Linked DNA regions of Homo sapiens. The protein of the gene in region 2 purifies or fractionates together with the protein of the main gene of each other region. This does not show direct contact. Each region holds a gene or a part of one and is shown on either strand. Other genes may lie near its edges. The genes, in order: SRPRA, SLC39A9, TTK and XPO7.

What was found.
Region 1: the proteins of SLC39A9 (region 2) and SRPRA purify together in Homo sapiens (affinity purification with mass spectrometry; 2 studies listed by BioGRID and IntAct, with this or other methods). This does not show direct contact.
Region 3: the proteins of SLC39A9 (region 2) and TTK purify together in Homo sapiens (affinity purification with mass spectrometry; 3 studies listed by BioGRID and IntAct, with this or other methods). This does not show direct contact.
Region 4: the proteins of SLC39A9 (region 2) and XPO7 purify together in Homo sapiens (affinity purification with mass spectrometry; 3 studies listed by BioGRID and IntAct, with this or other methods). This does not show direct contact.

The regions. Positions count from the first base shown.
Region 1 is NC_000011.10:126,262,438-126,265,932, reverse strand, and holds the end of SRPRA (signal recognition particle receptor subunit alpha), read left to right. Parts: intron 1-109; coding exon 110-196; intron 197-492; coding exon 493-665; intron 666-760; coding exon 761-974; intron 975-1,393; coding exon 1,394-1,557; intron 1,558-1,643; coding exon 1,644-1,742; coding exon of another isoform or gene 1,743-1,837; intron 1,838-1,888; coding exon 1,889-2,017; 3' UTR 2,018-2,995; downstream 2,996-3,495. UniProt on the Homo sapiens protein: Component of the signal recognition particle (SRP) complex receptor (SR). Ensures, in conjunction with the SRP complex, the correct targeting of the nascent secretory proteins to the endoplasmic reticulum membrane system.
Region 2 is NC_000014.9:69,394,380-69,401,719, reverse strand, and holds the start of SLC39A9 (zinc transporter ZIP9), read right to left. Parts: upstream 3,029-7,340; 5' UTR 2,351-3,028; coding exon 2,255-2,350; intron 1-2,254. Other genes in the region: ERH (enhancer of rudimentary homolog), read left to right, coding at 3,487-3,489, 6,808-6,895. UniProt on the Homo sapiens protein: Transports zinc ions across cell and organelle membranes into the cytoplasm and regulates intracellular zinc homeostasis. Participates in the zinc ions efflux out of the secretory compartments.
Region 3 is NC_000006.12:80,007,640-80,014,676, forward strand, and holds part of TTK (dual specificity protein kinase TTK), read left to right. Parts: intron 1-169; coding exon 170-392; intron 393-746; coding exon 747-853; intron 854-3,174; coding exon 3,175-3,318; intron 3,319-3,794; coding exon 3,795-3,909; intron 3,910-4,089; coding exon 4,090-4,162; intron 4,163-4,246; coding exon 4,247-4,341; intron 4,342-5,639; coding exon 5,640-5,727; intron 5,728-6,823; coding exon 6,824-6,947; intron 6,948-7,037.
Region 4 is NC_000008.11:21,922,647-21,929,683, reverse strand, and holds part of XPO7 (exportin-7), read right to left. Parts: intron 1-7,037.

The DNA.
Region 1 (3,495 bases), on a different chromosome or scaffold from region 2:
TCGCGGGATAGGGGTAGTTGAGAGCAGAATCACCTAGCGTTTCTCACCTGTACCATAAAGATTGGTCATTGCTGACATGGAACTGACATACCTGTCCCCCTCTCCTCAGCTAAGAACGTGGCTGCAGACATTGCCGTCCAGCTCTGTGAATCTGTTGCCAACAAGTTGGAAGGGAAGGTGATGGGGACGTTCAGCAGTAAGTACTTACCTAAGTGAGAAAGTGCTTATGTGTAGGTTAAGTGCATAGACCTCAGTTCTTACTAGGTATGTGACTTTCGGCAAATTCCTTAACCTCTAAACCTCTGTAACCTAGATTTTAAGGGTTATTGAGAGGATTCAGTGAGTTAGTCCTTGTAATGTGCGTCTGTTCTGGATTTCTGGGACAAGAGTCTAATTTACTGTTTTAGTCCCCTTAGCTCAGAAAGGTGTTAGGCATTTTTGAGAGCATTCCTTGAGTTTCACAGCTGCAACCTCCTCCACCTCCCCTTTCAGCGGTGACTTCCACAGTAAAGCAAGCCCTACAGGAGTCCCTGGTGCAGATTCTGCAGCCACAGCGTCGTGTAGACATGCTCCGGGACATCATGGATGCCCAGCGTCGCCAGCGCCCTTATGTCGTCACCTTCTGCGGCGTTAATGGAGTGGGGAAATCTACTAATCTTGCCAAGGTCAGTGCAGTTCCCCAGCCTATCGCTGATATTTCTGTACTTCTTGTGTCTCAAAATCCTGGCTTTAGGTGACTTTTCTTACGTCTTTTTCACAGATTTCCTTCTGGTTGTTAGAGAATGGCTTCAGTGTCCTCATTGCTGCCTGTGATACATTTCGTGCTGGGGCCGTGGAGCAGCTGCGTACACACACCCGGCGTTTGAGTGCCCTACACCCTCCAGAGAAGCATGGTGGCCGCACCATGGTGCAGTTGTTTGAAAAGGGCTATGGCAAGGATGCTGCTGGCATTGCCATGGAAGCCATTGCTTTTGGTACAGTGCATGGGAAGTGTGGGGGCTTATTTGGGGTCCCTTTTTCTCCTTGGGTTCTCTTGGAATTTGCAGAAGATCAGGCTTGTGCTACTACAGACTCGTTGGTCAATTACAGTAAAAAGTCAGATCAGTTACTTGCCATGCTCTGCTTTTGGATAACAGATGTAGTTGCAGGCAAAGCTAATATACCTTAACCAGAGAAACCTGAATTTGGTCACCTTCATCCTGTTGTCCTCCTTTTCCTGAATATGTTTGGTGATGGCCAAGCATATAATCAAGTTTTTCTCACATTACCTTGGAACCAAATCCAGAGCCCAAGACAGTGAACAGGTAGTCAAACTAGGACTTTTTGAGAGGAAGCTGGGAACGAGCATGAGTGGTAGTCCAGGTGTTCAGAGTTGACTACTTTCTTTCTCTAGCACGTAACCAAGGCTTTGACGTGGTGCTGGTGGACACGGCAGGCCGCATGCAAGACAATGCCCCTCTGATGACTGCCCTGGCCAAACTCATTACTGTCAATACACCTGATTTGGTGCTGTTTGTAGGAGAAGCCTTAGTAGGCAATGAAGCCGTGGACCAGCTGGTGAGAGCGTGGGCCCAGTTCCCTTTACAACTTGAGCTTTGGTCAATTTAGATGGTTCTTACACTTCTATCACTTTTTCTTTCCAGGTCAAGTTCAACAGAGCCTTGGCTGACCATTCTATGGCTCAGACACCTCGGCTCATTGATGGCATTGTTCTTACCAAATTTGATACCATTGATGACAAGGTAAACGTGAGACTGGAGGCTGGAATGGGCGTCCTGCACAAAGGAGCTGAGGCTGCAAGGAAATCTTGGCTCCAGCGCTTCCTGTTCCTGAGAGGGTGAGTGAAAAGTGGGCTTGTGTTGATGGGCTGTCCTCTTTCTCCACTTAGGTGGGAGCTGCTATTTCTATGACGTACATCACAAGCAAACCCATCGTCTTTGTGGGCACCGGCCAGACCTACTGTGACCTACGCAGCCTCAATGCCAAGGCTGTGGTGGCTGCCCTCATGAAGGCTTAACGTGGCTCTTGCCCAATACCAAATCGCCGCTTTCCCCACAAGCCCTTCTTCCTGTATCAAGAATGTGCTTTAGAGTATGTGAGCAACCTGTCTTCAGTGTAGTACAAAGGCAGAGTGAGGGGGCTTGTGGCTCCTTCCAACCCCACTCCCCGTTCAGCACAGCCGCCATCTGCAAGGAAGGCCTAATCATGTTACAATCACTGCCCACTGACCCTCTCCCAGCGGGCCTCCCCCTTCCTACTCAGGCACCCCCTTCACTCTGCCTACAGACTCAGTCTTATTACAGCTTTGACCAATGGTTGGAACCCAACACCAGAGCTTTGCTAATAATTAGTGTGGTCAAGAGCCGTCTGAGCCTAATGAGTCCCAGCTGCATTAGGTTAAGAGACTCTTCCAGAGCCAGCGCCAGGTCTTGAATGGCACCTCTCCCTAGGATACACAGCCTGCAGGTCCCCAGGACCTGGATGACACCCGCCTCACTGTGGCAGTGTATTGCCTGTTAATTGCTGCTAATTCTAATTCTGATGATGACTCCTACTCCATTGTTTACCCCAAAGCATCAGCTAGGCTGGAGTGATTTGTTACAAATGAGCAAAAGATGAGTCCTTGCTTCCCTCAGAAATAAAAGGAGCTCAGCTGCAGCGTTGCATTGGGCTTCTTGGCCTCCCAACTCTTCCCACTCCCAGAATCCAGAAGTAAGCTCTGCATGTTCCCCTTCCTGGGAGGAAACCAATTGTCAGAAGGATGTATGATGACCCCCTCCCCTCCCATCCTTCACCTCCTAAGCAGTCCTGGCTTTTCCTCATCACTCCCCTCTACAGTGCCTGGTAGACAAGTGCTACATTGAAGAACACAAACCTCTTGTTAAGACTTGTCCTGTAGCTTGATATTACAGATGTGCTATTAGTGCAATAAGGTGAAGGCTGTCTGCCCAGAGAAATAAGTAATTTATATAAGAAAATAAATTTCATAAATAAATTGCCTTTTAGGTCTTGGAGTTCTTTTATACAGGATTCAAAACTAAAATTCCACAACACACTTAACTGTAGTTCTAGGACATATGTATGGTCAGGACAACAGAGCAGAAGTTGATAATGCTCCGAGGAATCAGGTAAGTAAACGGTTGTCCTGAGAATGAGATCACTCCACCCCAAGGAGAAAGATCGGAACCTTTAAACTTTGGGTTATTAAAATTAAGCTTATTAGTACCTTGATGCAAGTTAGAGTTTCTTACAATGACTCTAAAAGTAGAGCCAGGGTCCTGGCAAGTAAATGAACAAGCTTTTAATACAGCTTAGTTATGTAAAATACTGTACACTGTAAAAGATCTAGAAAACTAGAGCTTCAAGTCATGTTTTAAAAAAGCCATTAAGCTTAATTGAAAAACCAAGTATAGAGTACAAAACTGCAACAAGAGCCACAGTGATTCCATGGCATCCAGACCCCGAGTCCTTCATGCAGAGCTGCAGCCGGTCAGT
Region 2 (7,340 bases):
ACCGTCAATTTAAGAAAGCCACAAATGACATGACATACTAATTATCTGTATTAATGACCCAGTTATTAACACCACTCCTGTAAACATTTCCTTCTAGTGAAAAAGGAAATAGTATATATCCGCATATTGCAATAATCATTCAAGGTAGTTTGAAAAAATACTGGAATTGGTAAAGTTAAAGGCATTTTATAGAAATAAAAAGTTTTACTGGTTGCTTATCAGAATTAATTATGATTATTCATAAATGTTACTTCAATATGTTTAAAAATACACAAACCAACCCAAATCTCACACATGTCAGCCCTACTAATGTCAATTCAATTCTAATATAGTTATAAGAAAATATGGTTATGTCAAAGGAAACATAGCAGGTTCACAAAGTACTGGGCAGGCAGGTAACCCAAATAAGTGAAACAGGCTTCAAGGGCAAGGAGGACTGTGCCTAACAGCTGCTACTCAGCCCGACCCAACCTTTGCCTCTAGGAAATACTGGTAAAGAACAACAATAATAAACTTCTGCTAATGGAACAGTCTGCAGGCTGGATTTGGCACACAGGCTACCATGTATATGTACCATGTACCTTTGCCGAAATGCTTAGTGGCTACGAACTAGTCTGAGTCAGAAAAGCTAGACTGAAAAAATACCTCTCTTCTGATTCTAACAAACTTCATGAACCTATCCAGTCTCCGTTTCCTCATCTATATGTCACTGATTTTTATTTTCTTTTTTTTTTTTTTTAAGAGAAAGAGTCTCAATGTTGCCCAGGCCAACTCCTGGGTTCAAGCAATCCTCCTACCTTATCCTCTTGAGTAGCTAGGACTACAGGCGCGCCCCACCGCACCCAGCTTGAGTTTTTTAAGTGAAGTTAGGTAATGCACGTAATTTTTTAAAATGCTATCATTAGATGCTGAGGGGTACAGATTAAAAAGGAAACAGAAAAAGAACAACAACAATTTAAGCATCTGTTCCATCTGGCTATGGGCTTTACTTTTCCTCAAACTGACAACACCTTGTCCCACCTTCTTTCCCACCCACAGGCTATTTTCACCTGTAATGTCTCCTCTTCCTCAGGTTTCTTCAAGGTGTACTTAATATTTCATTTATACCTTTCCTTTCTACTTCAGGCCTCCTTTGAAAGTACTTTCAGGAATGGCACTGAAACTAGGGCCTATTTTACTGCTGAACTCTAGGACAAACTCATGAAATCTTGTTCCCTTTGAATGTAGTAGTTTTTCCCCCCTAAATCTTTGAACGCTGTGCACTTCGTGAATTCCTTTTGCCTACCTAAAGGACCTATCAGCATGTTCACTGAACAGTGCTTTCATCTATCCCTCTTCCCGGGACCCTCGCTTAACATCTGTTCAAGGTGCCAATCAAATTAACGAAAATGTCAAAACGTATTAACCAAAAATTCATTGCTAAGCAAATAGATTTGAAACAACTTCAGAATATCAATTCCAAGGCTCCCCTTCTTTAAAAGGAAATGTGAGTTAAGAACAATCTTAGTTTTTTCTTACATTCATTCTAGTACAGACATCCAAAAAACAAAACAGCTTTCCTCAGAAAGGTGTGTTTGACTTTCTCAAAAGGAAGTTATCATATTGATTTCAGTTCATGTAGAAAAATAACATTCTCCATTTCTTTTTTTTTCTTTTTTGGAGACAGGATCTCACTCTGCTGTCCAGGCTGGAGTGCAGTGGCCCAAACACGGCTCACTGCAGCCTCAACCACTTGGGGTCAAGCGATCCTCCTGCCTCAGCCTCATTTGTAGGGACAAAGTCCCGCCACGTTGCCCAGGCTGGTCTAGAACTCCTGGGCCCAAGCGATCCTTCCACCTCAGCCTCCCAAAGTGCTGAGATTACAGGCGTGAGCCACCGCGCCCAGCCCTCCATTTATTTTCTTGATAACAATCTGGAATCTTGATTCCATGAAACCTCTGAGAATCAAAAGAAATGTTATGGTGCCTCTCTCCAGGTAAATGCACAGAACCTCAAATTTTTGTAAGCAATTCTAGGGGATTCAGAATACTCCAGGATCTTCCGTGGAATATCTATCCACCCCAGGTTAAGAATTCCACTAATGAATATGAGGTTTCTTTCTATTATTAAGTGTCATGTATCTTTTAAAAAAGATAGTCTTTCTTAATGAGACCTTCAGCTTTGAGATTTAACTAGGGAAGCAGCTTCCCTTTGCAACTAAAACTACTATCTCACAGCCATCCTGACAGCTGACAGAAAATTGAGAATTTCTTACCTCTGAGAAATTAACAGCCAAGGGAATGATTCCGGCCACGTAACATCCCACCAACATAGCCAGAGACAGCAGGCTAATGGAGATGAAATCATCCATTCTGCCCTCCTTTATTCACCCACAACCACTAGACAACAAATTTCCAGTGGCTTTAAATGGTGCTTAGGTTCTTTAAACAGGTGTGGTGGTTCCAAGAGAGTGGGCTTTCCAGTTCTTTAGGCCTTCCCACCAGCAGATGTGTTCACGAGGCACCTTCCTCTTGAACGTACCCGGCAACAGACCCTTTTTGCTGATATTAGCACCAGAGAAAGCTTACAGCAATCTAAGGTCCCAGGCTCTGGGTTCTCAGATGCCAGTCATTAGATTCTCGTGGGTTAACAGAGATGGGAAAAGTCAATGGGGAAAATGTGCGAATGATCGATTTCTTCGATTGTCGGATTGAGGGTGGCACAATGTCTTAGGCGGCGGCGGGTAAGTGACTCAAGCGAACCTGTTCGTTCCCTAGGCGCCCCTGTCTCCAAGAGGCGGCCCCGAAGGTGATCCGCCCCCCAGAGCAGGAAACCAGCCCACCAGTCCCAGCAAACTCTCCTCCGAGCCTGGGATGAGGAAAGGAGTCCTGCAGGTCTCTAACGATGGGTCCTAGGGGTTCAGCAGCAAAGTTGACACAAAGCTGTCTCTGCCCTATACCCGGTGCTGCCCATGGTACTGCACTCGACCGGGCCTTGACCCGGAGTCGCCGATACTACAGCTGCCATGGCCGCCAAGTGGCATCTCTTCATTCCATCCACTTCCGGATTGTCTAACCACCCCCTCCTTTACAAAGGCACTTCCGGGTTACAACCGACCTCCGGCCCAGGATACTTACGTTGCCGCCATTTTTGAGTAGGGCTAATGAAAGATGTCTGATGTCACTGTCTATACCGGTGATCACTTGAGCCGTATGTTTAATAACGAAAGTACGGAAGACAGCGTCTTGAAAAAAAATAATTCTTCCTAAAGCTTGGAAACTTTCCCTTACCTTTTTGCCTTTATCGAAGATGGCTGAAACAGAGTCAGTAGCTGCTCTAGCTGCCGGAAGTGACTGTGCCTCTATGATCCAAAAGGCTCTTTTGCGTTGCACTTTCGACGACTTCCGGCGGCTCCTCTCGCGAGGATTGGCTGTTAGCGGCGTTGTAGTTAAGCTCGTGTAACGGCGGCGGTGTCGGCAGCTGCTGTAGCGAAGAGAGTTTGGCGCGATGGTGAGAAAGGCCTCCGCGGCTACCCGAGTCCGAGTCCCCGGCCTCCAGAGCGACCCCAGCCCCATACGTTTTCCCCTCCCCACGAGCCCCATGCAGCGCCGCGTGATGCTCCCCGCCACTCTAGTCGGTGGATTGACCCTTCTTCCCGCCGCAGGGACGCCAGGCCTGACTCTAGGCCTCGGAGCCCCGGTCCGCCCTGCGGTTGCGCGCCCGCCTGCTCGCTCGGGTCCGGCGTGCCTTGGGCCTGAGGATGAACTCTCTCCCGATTGTTACTCGGTAGAGGGAGACGTGGGGGAGGTGTTTTGTTTTTTGAGATAGAGAGTCTCACTCTATCGCCCAGGCTGGAGTGCAGTGGCGGGATCTCAGACCCCTGCAACCTCTGCCTCCTGGGTTGAAGCAATTCTCCTGTCTCAGCCTCCCTAGTAGCTGGGATTACAGGCGCCCGCCACCTCGCTCGGCTAATTTTTTTATTTTAGCAGAGACGGCGTTTCACCATGTTGGCCAGGCTGGTCTCGAACTCCTGACCTCAAGCAATCCACCCGCCTCGGCATCCCAAAGTGCTGGGATTACAGGCGTGAGCCACCGGGCCCTGCCGGATATGGTATTTTTCCCTCCAAATGCTCTAGCCTGCTGTAGGAACAATGGGCCAGGGTTGTCTAACTATTCTCGAAGCTGACAGATCCAGCTATACCCAGCATGTGGGCCAGGAGAGGACGTATTTGCTTTGCAGTGTTTTTTCAGCTTTCGTTTTCCTGTGCTCTGCCTTTTTTTTTTTTTTCCTGTTTTTGAGACCTCTAGGTATTGCGTGTGGCGCGTCCCTCAGCCCTCGATCCTGTACTTATCTGTATTTATATCCTCTTGGGGCTGGAGGCTGAAAAGTAGGCTCAGCTCAGAGACCAGCTCTATTAGAACCCAACCGGGATGATCAGTAAGCTCCAATTCGAAGAAAGTGACCAAAACTGGCTTGAGAGGTGGTATAATCTGTAAAGAATTTGAGCAGGAAAGCATTGCCATTTAAAAATGATAACCACTTGACCACAGTTTTTAAAATGTATCATGTTATGTTCTTAGTGATTTTTAATCCTTGTCTTTGGGCAGTAAGTACTGAAAATAGTAAACTTTGCCCGGTGTTCATTTTAAGACTAGATATAAAAAGCAACATGCTGTATAGCTTTTTCCATTCTTACCCTTTCAAATTAGTCCTTTAATTTGCATTAGAATTGGAATACAATTATTATAGTAGCAGTTGAGATAGCTAGTGTATAGGGCAACCTCTGTTGCAAGAATGCACGTGGTTTCTACAAAATTATTTTTTCTTAAATGACTCGTTGAAACTTTTTGAGTAGCTAGCTTACAAAGACTTCTGTATAACAAATAATCTAATATGATGCTTTCTGTGGCTTTTAAATCGATTTAACAAAGGCTTTGACTGCTCAGGTTATTACAGGTGAGAGTTAATCCTTCGTCTCTTGTCACCAAGTTCCGTTTTTATGTCAAACCCTCTGAAACTTTTAGTCAAAGTGGTTTAGTTCTTGATGGGGAGAGAAGGGTATGATAACCCTTGGTTTTGCATGTCATGTTAAATGTACTATTTTTCCATTGTTTATTCAGAAAGTCTGGGCTTCAGCTATTTCTGTTCCAATTTGATGGTTAAAAATTCTGATCATTTTGTCCAGGCGCGGTGGCTCACGCCTGTAATCCCAGCACTTTGGGAGGCCGAGGCAGGCAGATCACCTGAGGTCGGGAGTTCAAGACCAGTCTGACCAACATGGAGAAACCCCATCTCTACTAAAAAGACAAAATTAGCCGAGCATGGTGGTGCATGCCTGTAATCCCAGCTACTTGGGAGGCTGAAGCAGAAGATTCGCTTGAACCCGGAAAGCAGAGGTTGCGGTGAGCTGAGATCGCGCCTTTGCGCTCCAGCCTGGGCAACAGGAACAAAACTGTCTCCAAAAAAAAATTATGTTATTCCAAAACAGTTTAGGGTTCCTGTTAGGAAATTTTTGTTTTCTGGTTTTTGGCTGAAAAATACTAGTACAGCAGAAGAGAAGGAAAAAGGTGAATAGTTTGATTTGGGACTGGATTTACAGTGGAGTTGCATCATACTTGCATTTAATTAACCTTACACATGTAGCAGAAAATTGGATGGGTCATATTTTCAACAGACCAGTGAATTCTCAGCTGGATGAGATTTTTTGCTCCCCAAGGGACATTTGTAACAAAGAATCAGTCAACCCAAAAGGTAATAGAGCCCACGTTGAGAAAACACTGAGATTGATTTGTTAGTGACTGATCACTAACAAAAACATGTTTCCCAGTGAGCACGAAGTGGAAGACAAGTCTGTCTGCTATGGGCATTATTTCACATTTCTCATAGTGTGATGACCTAACTTTCTGTGTGATTCTAATATGTGATTTTGGTATGAGAAAGCCCAGTAAGGCAAGTCATCTACTAGGTGAATAGTTTAATGGATTTTTAAGGGTAATTCTTATGATATGTTTATATTGCTAATTTATCTACTGCTTTAATGTTAAGTCTAACCCCTGGATAAAATGTGACTTTGCTCTTACGCTGAGGTTGGAAAAAAAGCTTAAGTTGAAACCATGCTTGTGATTATTATACTATTTCCCCTTTTGTTTCCTTTCATCAGCCCATCTGAGTTTTTATTAGTGACTTAAGAGCATTAAAGATGGAAAGTGACCACTGGAGACAGAAAACCTAAGCAGGTTTATAATTTAGTTGGGAAGAAAAGATAGAAAAGGAAAAGGAGGGCAAGGTAGCTTATACTGATTACTTGTAGGCAGTAAGTACGGTAGGACTGGGAGACTTAGGGAGACCGTACAGCAGAGTTGTGAATCCAGCTAGATACTATACTTAGACTAAGACATCAATATTTTTGTGGGAAAAGTATCCTAATGACTTTTTTTTTTCTTTTAAGAGATAGGGCCTCACTCTCCGATGCAATGGTGTGATCATGGCACACTGCAGTCTCAGCCTCCTGGGCTCAAGGAATCCTCCTGCCTTAGACTTCCAAAGTGCTGGGACTACAGGCATGCACCCGGCAAATTTTATTTTTTTGTAGAGACAGGGTCTTGCTATGTTGCCCAGGTTGGTCTCAAGCTTCTGGCCTCAAGTGATTTTCCCCCTCTCAGCCTCCCAGAGGATGAGGATTATAGGCATGGGATGCCATGCCTGGCCTCTCTAATTACATTTTAATAACTAGCAATCATTATTGCATTACAAATGGGGATTTTTTTTTATCATACTATGAATTTCTCAAATAGAAACTTATATTGAAATCATGTTTTCCCCTGCAGTCTCACACCATTTTGCTGGTACAGCCTACCAAGAGGCCAGAAGGCAGAACTTATGCTGACTACGAATCTGTGAATGAATGCATGGAAGGTGAGTTTAACACTAATCAAGGGGTAGAAAAATGTCTCATTTAGGAACTGGGTTTTTCCCCTCCAAATTTTTTTTTTTTAATAGTCCATCCACCCCAGGCCCTGCCTTTATCACTTCCAACCCTCCAAATTTATTGAATTGCTAATTTTAGGAGGGAAAGCAGATATTTAGGATGGACCATAATTATTGAACATTTTATTTATTTGTTTGTTTATTTATGTATTATTTGAGACAGAGTCTCGCTCTATCACCCAGACTGGAGTGCAGTAATGCGATCTCGGCTTACGCAACCTCCGCCCCCCAGGTTCAAGTGATTCTCTTGTGCCTCAGCCTCCCAAGTAGCTGGGACTACAGGCATGGGCCACCACACCCAGATAATTTTTTGTGTATTTAGTAGAGATGGGGTTTCACCATGTTGGCCAGGCTGGTCTCGAGCTCCTGACCT
Region 3 (7,037 bases), on a different chromosome or scaffold from region 2:
ATAAGTTACTTGTATTTATATGAACTTTTACAATTTTAAAAAGTATTATAAGGACTTTATGTACATTGATACTGACAGTACAAATGTTTGACTATATTTTGAAGGAAAAATGCAATTTGGCATTTGTTTTATGTCTTTTCTTGTGATATATTTTGTTCCCCTTATTTAGATAACTCGGGAACTGTTAACCAAATTATGATGATGGCAAACAACCCAGAGGACTGGTTGAGTTTGTTGCTCAAACTAGAGAAAAACAGTGTTCCGCTAAGTGATGCTCTTTTAAATAAATTGATTGGTCGTTACAGTCAAGCAATTGAAGCGCTTCCCCCAGATAAATATGGCCAAAATGAGAGTTTTGCTAGAATTCAAGTGAGATTTGCTGAATTAAAAGCGTAAGTATTAGCATTTTAACTATGTTCAACTATGTTACATAATATGTAACTACACTGCAAAGAGAGAAAATAAAAAACATGGCAGTATTGTGAGAAAATATTAATTTTTTTACCAAATACTTTTGCTTATAGTTAACAAGAGACTAATGTAAACTCTTTTCTATGCACGTTTCCACAACAGTTTACTTATTTTAAACTGCCTAAAAAGATTTTTTTAAAATAACTTATTAGTATTTAATTTTACCCACAGAAAAAAGCAATATCCCATGTTTTTTGGAAAATTGAATGAAGCATTATCAAATTTAAGTAGCTATGTTCTTTTTCTTAAATTTTGACTCAAATCTTTTATTACAGTATTCAAGAGCCAGATGATGCACGTGACTACTTTCAAATGGCCAGAGCAAACTGCAAGAAATTTGCTTTTGTTCATATATCTTTTGCACAATTTGAACTGTCACAAGGTAATCTGAAAATGTCAAATTCAAATTTTAAGTAAAGGATAACTTATTACAACTTACTTCCTAATATTAAATCATATATATGAAGTGGAAATTTGAGGCAAAAGACATTAAAGTTGATCAGATGAGAATATGGGGAGAAAATGCCACCTAAATGTAAATGCAGAGAATATCTGTTATACTAGCTTTTCCATGTATAAAGAGTAATCCAGGGAAATGAGCATGAACATTGTGTATGTGCTACTAGTTAGATTCAGGAAACATCTAAAGGAAAGTAGCTGCTTCACTGAGTATTTGTAGGAAGAAGGATATCAGATATTTAAGCTAGAGCTTTAAATATCTAGAGCTTACATAAACTTTTCTTATGCTATGGTTTCATAGCACCAAAATGTACATTAAAGTGTAGCTATGTAACTTGGTGGTCAAGTAAACTATATATCTGTGTGTGTGTGTGTGTGTGTGTGTGTGTGTGTGTGTGTAGCGTTAATTGGTAGTTCTTTAAAATAAAAAAGTAAACTGCTGTAGAAACTATTTCTTGCTCACTTGGTTCTTCATAGTCTGGATTTTTTTGGGTAGGACCAAGACAATCTCTTCCTAAGACATTTTTAACCTGGCCATTCCTTAGTCTTTTCTCATTTTCCAGGGCCTTTGGATACACCCTCAGTCTGCCCTCTGGCCAGGTGTTTCCATTCTCCCACTGCCTTGTTTCTGCTACAACTGTGATCCAATTTACTGCCAGTGATAAACATATTAACACTATTGGAAGAATCCCCATGATGGTTTCCATAGCAGGGATTGGTCACTGGAGAGTATTCCCCAGGATTGAGCCTGGAGAAAATAATTATATGACTCAGAAATAATTTGAGAACCCTGAATTGTTACCCATTCAGATGATTTCTGAGTCCTAGTAATTGTCTTCTCCAATATGTCCTTTGCTCTATCAGGTTACTTTTTAGAACTATTATCCCTTTCTTCTCTAGAAAAATGGATTCCTCCTTGCTTGTTAGAGAAAATTTGGCAAGGCTTCTTTCTCTCCATTCTGCTTGAAAATTTCTTGAGGTATTGTGGCCTCTCAATAACAACCATAAATTTTACATGTTTAGAACATGTAAATATTGAAACTCTTAAATTGAGTTATCTGTAAAAAAGACGAACTTTATCTATACCACTTTATCTGCAATGTGGTAGTAATGCACAGTGATGCAATGTGGTCAAATGCATTGCACAGTAATGCAGTGTGGTCAAATTATGATTATTTTGAGCACAGTTGATGGCTTGGCTGTCAGGAAATAATGCAGCATCCCTGAAGTCCTATGCAGAGTCTGGTGTGTGAGTATTTTTATAGGGATGGAGGACATTTCAGTTTTTACCAGATTCTTAAAGAAATCTCTGATCTCAATACTAAGCTATCTGATTAATTAAGCTTCTTAAGCCTTTCTCTCTTTTCTTGTGCTAAAATACACAATACATGAAATTCTACCACTACTTAGTAAATGTAGATGTAAGCACTATCAAAGATATTTTTAAAAATTTATAAACTACCAGAAGCTAGAGATCATCTCTTAAGCATTTTTATACGCTAAGTACCAAGTGCATAGCATAGCTCAATGGCTCCCATAAATGTTGATAATATTCTGTAAGATATGTGATGTATACATTTAATATTTATATGTCAAATGCTAGGGGTAAGTTTACCAATTTTTTTGGTAATCTGTCCATACTCAGAAAGGTAATTATGATAGTTCCTCAGTTATTCTGCATTCTTTTTCAGGCTGGTATAGCTGAGTGTGACAGCTAAAGATTAATCTGTATTTATTATGTTTTTCCCCGAAAATCCTTTTGATGGAAGATGCTCTTTAACAAAAGATGTCATCCTTCCCTTAACTAAATGTCATTATGAATGATACTTATTATAGCATGTTGTAAGAGACTGATGCTCTTGGCACTTTTGTAACATCTAGAATGCCCTCCTGTTTCTAACTGTTGTGATTGGCCTTTGCTGTCCCCTGTTGGTAACTGCTTTGTTACACTTCTGTTACTTCTGAAAGTGGACAGTGGTGATAAACTAATGCAAAATTACGTCAGCTACATATTGCAAGGAAACTATTTGGTATGCATTGTTATCAGAAGAGAGTTGGTTATCTGCATAAAAAGTGAGAGATTGCTTACTTGCCTATGAAATAAAATACATGAGCCTTGGAATAAATATTTTTGCTTAAGTCTTTTTGATTTTTTTTTCTAGGTCCTGATGAATACGTATCTGGGTGGTCTGGGTGGTGGGCATTTTACTGCCTAAAAATGACAATTATCTTTTGCTTTGTTAGGTAATGTCAAAAAAAGTAAACAACTTCTTCAAAAAGCTGTAGAACGTGGAGCAGTACCACTAGAAATGCTGGAAATTGCCCTGCGGAATTTAAACCTCCAAAAAAAGCAGCTGCTTTCAGAGGAGGAAAAGAAGAATTTATCAGGTAACTATTAAGGTATACTAATACTTTCTGTGGTAGGTAGTACTTCAAATAAAGATTCGGGATAATAATTTATAGAAAAATATTATTTATGTAGAATGGTTAAAATCTAAGATTAAATTGTAAAGGAGGTAAGACTGAGAAGTAAAAAAGTCTCTACAACCCCATGCAAATTTGTCTTTTTTGCTAACTAAACTTTCGTTAACACATGAAAAACAACTCTAAGCAAGAGAATTTTTTTTTTTTTGCTTTTGGAAATAGAGAATGTGCTTTTACCCTGGGGAAATAGTTATATAATTTAAGAGAATTTGAAGAAGTAGTTAGATAATTATCTTGGTATCATCTTCATGTCTGCATATCTTACTTGGGGACAAGTATTTCCTATGAATTGACTTTTAAAATATTCTTATTTGTAAGATCACTTTTTTGTACTTGTCTTATTTCTTATAAATTTAATCATAGTTTCAAAATTTTTACAGCATCTACGGTATTAACTGCCCAAGAATCATTTTCCGGTTCACTTGGGCATTTACAGAATAGGAACAACAGTTGTGATTCCAGAGGACAGACTACTAAAGCCAGGTTTTTATATGGGTAAGGAAACGGAAACAGTTTTTAAATGTTCATCTTCTATGTAAGTACATCTGTGTTTTTTAATGTAATTACATGTATCTGCATATATGTTTTCATGTGTGTGATAATGTTTAGCAGTAGAGTAGAAATACATATTAATATTGTTCTTTGAAAAATTGGGGGTATTTTCTTTCTGTTTAGAGAGAACATGCCACCACAAGATGCAGAAATAGGTTACCGGAATTCATTGAGACAAACTAACAAAACTAAACAGGTAAGTTACTTTCAATCTGCTTGATTAAGGTGGTGATAGTCTTTATTTCCTAGTTGGTTATTTAATCTTTCAAAATATTTTTAGTCATGCCCATTTGGAAGAGTCCCAGTTAACCTTCTAAATAGCCCAGATTGTGATGTGAAGACAGATGATTCAGTTGTACCTTGTTTTATGAAAAGGTATGTTGAGTTTTAATTTTTAAAATTTGTTGTCCGTATGGGAAGATTAATGGCAGAATGGTCTTAAAGTCTTTTACTGAGTAATAGTAATTATGATTAAATTTTTATTCAGTTTTAGAAGATAATCTCTAAATGTTGTCAGGAACAAAGGAATGAGTGGAGAAAATAACTTTGTTTTGCTTTTTCACTCATTAAAAATATTCATTAAAGGAGCTTTAAAAGGAAAAAATATTAAGTCAACATTAAGCTTAAAAGACTGATATTTGAGGATTTGTCACTTACGGGTAGGCTGTCTGCTAAGAATCTCTTCCTGTTTTGTTTGAGAGTCTCCATAACGGGTAGAAGGAGGTCTGGGAACAAATATTTGCTCCAGATAGTTCAAGGGGAGAATCGCTGTCAGTGGGATAGATGATTATTCTTTTGCTTGAGTCTAGTGCTTCAAGAAGTGGGACAGGTTAGGTACAGATGAATTACTGTTCATCACATCCAGTGTGTTCTCCTTCCCTCAATTTGCTTGTTTATTCCCTGTTAAGAAATGGGAATGTAGCCTGTAGCTCAGCTAAAGGAGAGTTATTTTGGCCTATTCTTAATTCTGACCAACATTTGTAATATTTATATTGGAAAAGGCTCCTTACAGTCCAGAGAATCATTTTGCAAATAAACTTTAGAAATACGATTGTTTTTCATTACTATCTTTTATAATTACATTTCTATTATATTTAGACTTGACTAAATATTGACATTAAAAGAACATTTTGTTTGTCAAGGTTAAGCTTTAAAGTCTTATCACTATGATTTCATCTTGTTCATCTCTATTTCAAATACCTAGCTCAAGAATAAAGGAGATTTTCTTCCGCTCCAAAAAATTAAAAACAAAAACAGAAAAACTGCAGCCATTTTCTTGGTTCCTGTTATCGATAGACAATGCTAGGTACTGTGGAGGTCCACAGAAGTGCTATACCCTGGTTCTTATCCTTTAGCTATTTGTAATTGGAAATGTAGTTTCATCTGTATACTTTGCCTTTCCCACAGTCTAACCCTAACTCCAATTGTTACTGATTAGATAATGAAGAAGTAGGCGATCACCTGTGTCACTTTTGTCATTGCCCAGCACGTAATTTTGTTAGCTAAGTCACTTTTGTATTGGAATTATGTCACTCTAAAAAATGTCTTTTTAAGAGATTTTTTTCAATAAAAAGTATGTATATTATTAAAAATCCAACTTGAGATGAAAAAATACATTGAAAATTTTTTTTTTCAAATTTAATGTTAAAATTATTTTGTTTCACGGGTAAAAGACAAACCTCTAGATCAGAATGCCGAGATTTGGTTGTGCCTGGATCTAAACCAAGTGGAAATGATTCCTGTGAATTAAGAAATTTAAAGGTATTTTAATTCTATATCATTATATAAAGCAAGGGTTCCTGATCTGGGAGGATCAGTATTCATGGAGCTTTTTCTGGGGAAAGGGTTTATAAATAGTTCATGTATCTCCAACAGTGTTCCACATACCCCAAGAGCTGTGGGACTACGAGTGGGAAGTTGGTGCAGAAGTCCTAGACTATGTTTCTCCAAGATTAAGGTGGTAGAGCAAGGATCAACAATCTTTTAAGAGAATCATGAAGTAATATTTATTATGCACGTGTTTAAGCAGATAGTTGGCCTGGGTTTGGGAATACGTGACTGGGGGAACTGTTGCCCCCAAGTTTTGTTTTTTGTTATGTTTAATCATATGATTTTGGTAAGACATCTTAAAAAAAAATGAGAGAGTAAATTGAGTTAGGGCAGAGGTGAGGACATAAATAATCCTGACCTCCTGACATGGCAGAGCAACTTTGTGTGGACTTAAAGGAAATAATTTTAGTTCCTGGTACACTGTGATTTTTAGTGGTTATACTATTATTATAATTGAGTTAAACCCCTGGCATCATGATGTGGGTCTTTTCAATTTTATGTTCTTTGTAATGCCTCCCTCTTTCATGACCTATGCTTTAAGTATTAATTTTTCCTAATCCTGGCTGTCCTAGAGAACAGTGCATAATTGTGTCAAAAAGATTGTTCTCTGGATTTAGAGTAACTACTCTCTTAAGTTATGCAGTTACTAGTTTTGACTTATTTTTGGTGATAAAATAGCCATCACAGTAACAAAATACTTAAATCTTTTTTCTTGTCATGAGGCATACTCTATGTTGAATTCAAACTTTCTAACCCTTTCCATCTTTAAGTGAAATATATTTTAGCAATTGATTAATACATCCACTGAAAGCAAATTGGCCAGATTTATGGTTATGACCCTTCCCATTTCTCTAATTAATAATTCAGGCAGTTAACCTTTGCTGGGGGTTTGTGAGTCTACATATAATTATAATAGAAAATTTTATGAGCAATCCATGTATAGATAAGACTTTAGTATATTGAACAGTAAGACAGATTAGTAGTACTACTATTTATGGGACTTTATTTGATTTTCTTTTTCATGTAGTCTGTTCAAAATAGTCATTTCAAGGAACCTCTGGTGTCAGATGAAAAGAGTTCTGAACTTATTATTACTGATTCAATAACCCTGAAGAATAAAACGGAATCAAGTCTTCTAGCTAAATTAGAAGGTAAGAGTAACAAAATCAGTAGACTTGTATGTTTAGTTAAGAAAACCACTTGATAGCTTAAGAAAGCAGACTAGCCACCTAAGAATTATG
Region 4 (7,037 bases), on a different chromosome or scaffold from region 2:
TGAAAAACTTTATGGTAAATAATACTTTAAAATTAGAAGCTGAAGAGAACTACGATTGCTAGTGAATCAGGACTTAGCACCAGGAAAAAGTGATTTCATGGTTTACTATCTCCCTTCATATTCTCCATCTCATCTGTAAAACAGTTACAACTATATGGGAATTTTAGAAGGTTTGTTCTTTGCAAAATGCTTTGGCAGATGATAAGTTAACACTTGTTTTTTTCCCCTTAAAACACTATTTCCTATCAGTAAAATTCTGAATTTCTTTTATGAGTTAACTGCTTCCTCTCATCACTTGGCCAAGAGAACAGGACATACATGGATAACAAAATATATCCATTTGCATTCACACACATCTGAGAGGACGAGGATCTAGCTTATTTTTATCGACATCCAGGAAAGCAATCCTATAACCTATGTTCCACTTTGCTTCTAATCCCTTTGGTTCAGCGGCAAGTTTATTCTAGAGTAGCACTGTCCAATAGAAATTTCCATGAGAGTGGAAATATTTTATATCTGCACTATGCAATATGGTAGCTATTAGCCTCATGTGGCTACTGAGCACTTGAAATGTGGTTGGTACAACTGAAGAACTTGATGCAGTTCCTGTCAAACTGGGCTTGGGTTAGAAACATACTGGGCTGGTACGTCCTCCACCCAAAAGTCAGGCAATAGATTTGAAGGGACACATCACCAAAGAAGATCTACCAGAAGTCTGCAAATGTTTTCTCTAAAGGGCCAGAAAGTAAATATTTTAGGCCAAAATGTCTGTCAAGACTATTCAGCTCTGCCACTGTGGTACAAAAATAGCCATACGGGATACATAGATGAATGCATGTTCCAATAAAACTTATTTACGAACAGTGAAATCAGAATTTCATATAATTATCATGCAACATGGAGTATTATTCTTTTAGATGTTTTCAACCATTTAAAATGTAAAAGCTATTCTCAGGGTGCAGGCCATACAAAAACAGGCTGTCAGGCCAAAACACCAGCCTGGTTTGCAAGCCTGAGATATACAAATGTCAGTAAGCACATGAAGAGATACTCAACATGTTAGTCATCAAAGAAGTACAAACTAAAAACACAAGATCCTACTAGAAAGGCAAAAAGAATGACAATACTAAATGTTGGCGAAGTTATGAAATAACTCGAGGTACAGTCATTTTGGAAAATTGACAGTTTCTTTAAAAATGTAAACATACACAATAAGACTCAGCCATCCTACTCCCAGGTACTCAAGAGAAATAAAAATGTACATCCATACAGAGACTGGTATATGAATATTCACAGCATCTTTATTCACAATGACTAAAAACTGGGAACAACCTGAATGTCTCCCAAAGAGTGAATGGATACATCCAATGTGATATATTCATACAACGGAATACTTGGCAACAATGAAAAGTAACCAAGCACTCCTACTATGCAACAATGAGAATCAATCTCAGAGTTACTATGCTGAGTGAAAGAAGTCAGAAAACAAGAGTATACAGTAAGTCCATTATATAAAATTCCAGAAAATGCAAACTAATTTATAGTGACAGAAAGCAGAACAGGGTTGTGTGGGTCTGAGAGCTGAGGGAGGAACAGACTGCAAAGAGGAAATGTTCCATATTTTGATCCCGGAGTCACAGGTGTATGTATCTGTCAATTTGTACACTTTAAATGGATGCAGTTTACTGTACGAATAAAATTTTAGTAAAAAGGAAAGATTTTATTCCACTGGCAACAGATTTACACAACAGTAATCTCTATGAACCAAATATCCACTTTTGTGAGTGCTGTTTACATTTGAGGGGACGGGTATGGGAGGAATAGATAAGAAGTTGGGTCAGCCAGGTGCGGTGGCTCACGCCTGTAATCCCAGCACTTTGGGAGGCCGAGACAGGAGGATCACCTGAGGTCGGGAGCTCAAGACCAGTCGGACCAACATGGAGAAACTCCGTCTCTACTAAAAATACAAAATTAGCTGGGCGTGGTGGTGCATGCCTGTAATCCCAGCTACTTGGGAGGCTGAGGCAGGAGAACTGCTTGAACCCGGGAGGCAGAGGTTGCCGTGAGCCGAGATTGCGCCACTGCACTCCAGCCTGGGCAACAAGAGCAAAACTCCATCTTAAGAAAAAAAAAAAAAAAAAAAAAGGTTGGTTTTTTTTAAGTCTCACCCTATCAATGCTATCAATGTTAACACGAAATGTGCCTTTGGGAACCTCTAGGGTACATTAACAGTAACCTAAACCAAACAGCTCTGAATGGACAGGTTTTAGGAATTCTGTGAAATTAAAACTTCTTGCTCACAACATTCTGCTCTCCCTGTATGGAGTGTGGCTAACTGTAGAATTCCAAGAACTAGTAAATAATCCTTTACATTACAACAAATTTTCATTTGTAACACCTGTGGGATAATGTCCTTATTTTATTTGAATTTAATTTAAATTAATTAATTAATTTTTTTTAAAAGACTTGGGGTCTTGCTATGTTACCCAGGCTGGACTTGAACTCCTGTACCCAAGTGATCCTCCCAGCTTAGCCTCCCCCCCAGTAGCTGGGACTACAAGCATGTGTGCCCCTGCCTGGCCTGTCCTTAAATACTCCCTGTTGCTCAGGTTCAATTCACCTAAAAACAATTTAATTTGGTTTTATGAAGGCCTGAAGAAAGTTGCTCAGTTCTGGAACATTATCAGTTCAAAATATTAAGACTAAGGAAAACAAGGTCACATTTTCCAGTAAGTTTTATTTAATCTTTAAAATTCTTGGGTATGCCCCAGGCTAGTTTTTGACAAGACCTCGCAGGGATCCTTAGATGGGTCAATGACAAGCTGAAGACAAAAATATCACCTACTAACACGAACATTACATTCTAAATAATTTGTGGCTATATATTGGGCAAAATTTAGATTTTTTTTCAACTGAGATGTATAGATTTTATCAATACATCAACAGATGTATTGATATGTGAAATATACATCAGGTTTCCCAGATCTTTTTCAGAGCAAACTTTATGTTTCAAGTTCTTACAGTTAAGTTAAATTTCATGACTAATTTTAGACAACGTCTTTTTGGAAGACAGAAGTAAAGCACTGAAGTTCAGGAGTTAGCAGAGGTGAATGAGGTTAAAAAAAAAACAAGCTTTGAAATAATTTTTGCCAAACTCATGACATATGCTTTCAAAACTTTGCAAACAATTTTAAATAGAATTGGAAAAAATCCTAAGAAAACCCTTCATTTCCCTTTTCTAGCCTTAAATACACCCCTTTAAACCATAAATTGACTCAAACTTTAGGGCAAATGTCTAGCAAAACTCTCAGTTCTTTCTGAGACTGCACATTGTAAATATCATAATTTCTTATCATGCAAAGTACCAATGAGATCAGCATGTGTCCAACTCAAGTTCATATATTTAAAAGCTAAAAGGCCACTACAGTTATAAGATTACAATTTCCTGAAGTAGTACAAGGGATATTTTAATAATCTGCTTGTTTTCAGAGGAACATTGTTTTCCAGAGGAAAATATTTTGATTTTTTTTTTCATCTAACTAATGTTTTTCTAAGAGAGGTTTAAAACCCAGGGGCTTTTAAGTGAGAATCATTTCTCAGCCTACCGGCATCAACATTTGACTAATAATGTTAATTTCTTGTCCCATAAGAAATATCTTTCACTGCTTATTGTCCAACTAAGAGACCTCTTTCGTTACTGTTTGGGGCATAAGAGAGCTCAATTTGTGAGAAGTGCTACAGATGACTAGATCTTACAGAAAAAAACTCTGGGAGTTTAAGAAATTAGGCGTAAAGAAGAGGAAGATATATTTAAGATAGATAAAATGGAAATGTTGGTTTGAGCATAAATATTTTAAGGAATTTTACAAACATGTACATATGAATTGAGAACACGGTGCTATATTGGGGAGAGAATACAAGGATGACAACTGGAAATCCCATCCAGAATGCTTGAAGTACAAGGGACTTCACAGATCACTTAATCCAGGCTCAGAGACCAAACGAGTTTCCCAATTAAATGGCATAACACTATAAAAGGCTTAGCATGGTGCCTGGCATATAACAGACACTCAGTTAATACTGGTATCCCCCTTTCCCTATGACCAACCAAGTCACACTCCAGTAAGTCTTACAATAACCACCACCATGAACATCATCTAAATCTTCCAACAGCGAGTTCTCCAGTCTTCCAGGGATACCAGGTCTTTTAATCAGCTTATTTCAAGGAAAATTCTATTACTATTATCTCTATACCGATGTTACATTGCTGCGGTGAGCATTAAATGATATCAATTAATGCTAGCATGAAGTTTCCAATTCTGCCTTCTCTTAAATACATCCTTCCCATTTTATGGCAGTAGGAGTGTGTGTGTGTCCTTGTGTGCATGCACACATGTGCGAAGGGGTGAACAGCCATTGAAGCAAATATCAGAAATACTTAGGATCTAGGTTTTTTACAACTCTCTCCCTCCCCCAAGATTTTGATATGCCTCCTGGGTACCAATCCCATTCCATTGAGAATTTCCTAGTAATGAGTCACTATAAATGTTAGGAATGAATGTATTCCAGACATGTATTGGAATGGGGGAAAAGATAACGGGGTAGTGACTGCCCCCCATTCAGGGACATGTCGACAAAACCAGTCTCACTACAAATTCACAACTCAATGACCAGGCTTGTTGTGATGCTCAATTCAATGTAAGGCCCTGGAAGTAGAATATCACATCTTGTATTTCCTTCTATGTGTCTGCACAGTAACAAAAATGGGATATTAGTAGATGCTTAAGTGGTCACCATTAATCATCCTCAAGAATTTATTTCAATATTTAAAAATTCAGCTTGCATGTAACTCTCCAGGAACATTTATCGTGGTCCTGAACTTGCTTTTCAAATAAGTCAAAAGAGAAATACTTGTAAATCAGTTTCTCAATAAAATGTTGTGAGCATTTTCATCTAAAAAGAAACATATATTTAAACTCTAGTTATCAAGGTTCATGAATGGCCTAAAATTGTGGGTAAAATTTTGTGTAGGCACACTCTCCCCACCCCCACCAGAGAGCAGTAACATAGCTTCCATCATATTATGAAATAAATCCCCCCAAAGCTGTATAATCACTGCTCTGTACTGCTTCTCCCCCTGGCTTTGAAGCTAAAACTCTCAGGTTACTCAGCTTGAGTTCTAAAAGCAGATTTAAAAATAAAATGACAGGATAGTAGTTAGTGGGGTGGGGGGGGGAGGGGGGCTACAGGTAGCTGTTGAGATGGTATCAGGGGACTTCTGGGGCACCGATAATACTGACTTGATTTGGGTGCTGGTTAGTAAGGAGTATTCACTTTGTGAAAATTCATCAAGCTGAACACATATGATTTCTGTACCTGTCTGCAGGTATATATTTCAATAAAAAGTTTTTGAAAAAAATAACAAAGATGGGTCACTTATACACAGCATATATCATTACAGAATTTAATGAAGTCCTTAAAAATGATGCACTAGGAGAGGCCCATTGGTAAAGAACTGCAGCCTCCAGACAACAGCCAGTGAGGAACTGAGGCCTGACCAGGCCCGCTGTGTGTAAACCTAAAGAAAATTCTCTATCCTCAAGTCAAGCCCTGAGATTGACTGCAGCCCGGAGCCCCAGCTGAGAGTTTGACTGCAAATGAGACCCTGAACCAAAACCATCTAGTTAAGCCACTCCCAGATTCCTAACCCTGAGAAAATGTGAGATAATGTTAGGTGTTTTAAAAAGATGCAGTTTCAAAACACTATCTTCCTTGCACATACTGAAGTGGGCAAAGTAGCCTCAGTAGTTGTACCTACAGAGAGACATTAGCTTATTGGTTTAAACTGGCAACTTTCCCACCTCGAAAGGCTGTGGTACAATATTGCTTTCAAAACCCAACCAAGAAAAAAGAAAATACAGCTGGTGGTTATGAACATCAATTTCTGGGTCAAATGGAAGCTAATTTCTCTGTAAGATATAGAACAGGGATCTTCCTGATACTTCTTTCTATACCTTCATCTAAATTAGAGATTCTTCCATCACTGTACTGTATTTTGTTTTTTCTGTGTTAAGTGTTTGAATGATCCCACACGTATATATACATCCCTTAATTTTTCTCAAGGCTTCTCAGGAAATATACTAAAGTCAGAGTAATCAAGTAAATATATAGATATATATGTTTTAAATACAGACATTTCCAGTGTGGTGTTGAATAGGAGTAAAATAATGAAATAAAATACACACATATTATTTGTATAAACCCACGAAAGAGGTATAATCAGGGTGGGAGTGGGTGATGGGATATAGTTATTGCTTATCACCCAACACAGATGTAGCATGTTTTGAAATCAATGTATTCTTTCTTGTATCTACGTGTGTGCTCCTGAAGCCTGCCAAAAGAGCATCAGAATTGGATATTTCAGCAGTCTGGCTCCAGTGTCTTTCTCATTCTGAATCCTCTGAAGTGCCCAGCACAGAAAGGGCCTTGCACACACTAAGCATTCTGGTATTAGTCGAACTGGAAAAAAGTTAGAAAAGTTATGTTTTTTCCATTTAAAATTCTCAAAAGTTGTACGGAACTCCCTTTTCAAAATGGACTACCCATAGCACTTATCATTTCCTTGCATATTGTTAAAAGCTGAAAAAACAACCATCACTTTTGCTATAATCAGGCCGACTTTTTGCACCCTGCTAAAATTTAACCTGACAAGTTGTAATGATTCTTCACAACTCCCTGGAGTTACACTGGTAGTCAATATTTAATTACTGTGCCTGGAATTTAAAACAAACTATGACTACTTTGCAAATAGTACATTCTCCTAGTACAGTCATAATGCAAAGCCCAGTAAATAATAAGACCCAACACAACAACGTAGTAATTCCAGCAAAATCCTGGAATCAGTCTTCATTTCCATTATTTATGGTAAAACTAATATAATTCATATTAAATAGCATATTCGATATATAAATCATATTCTTTCCTTCCTTTTCCTCTCGAGCTCCTGAACACCAGCTAGCACTATTAAAACTAACATC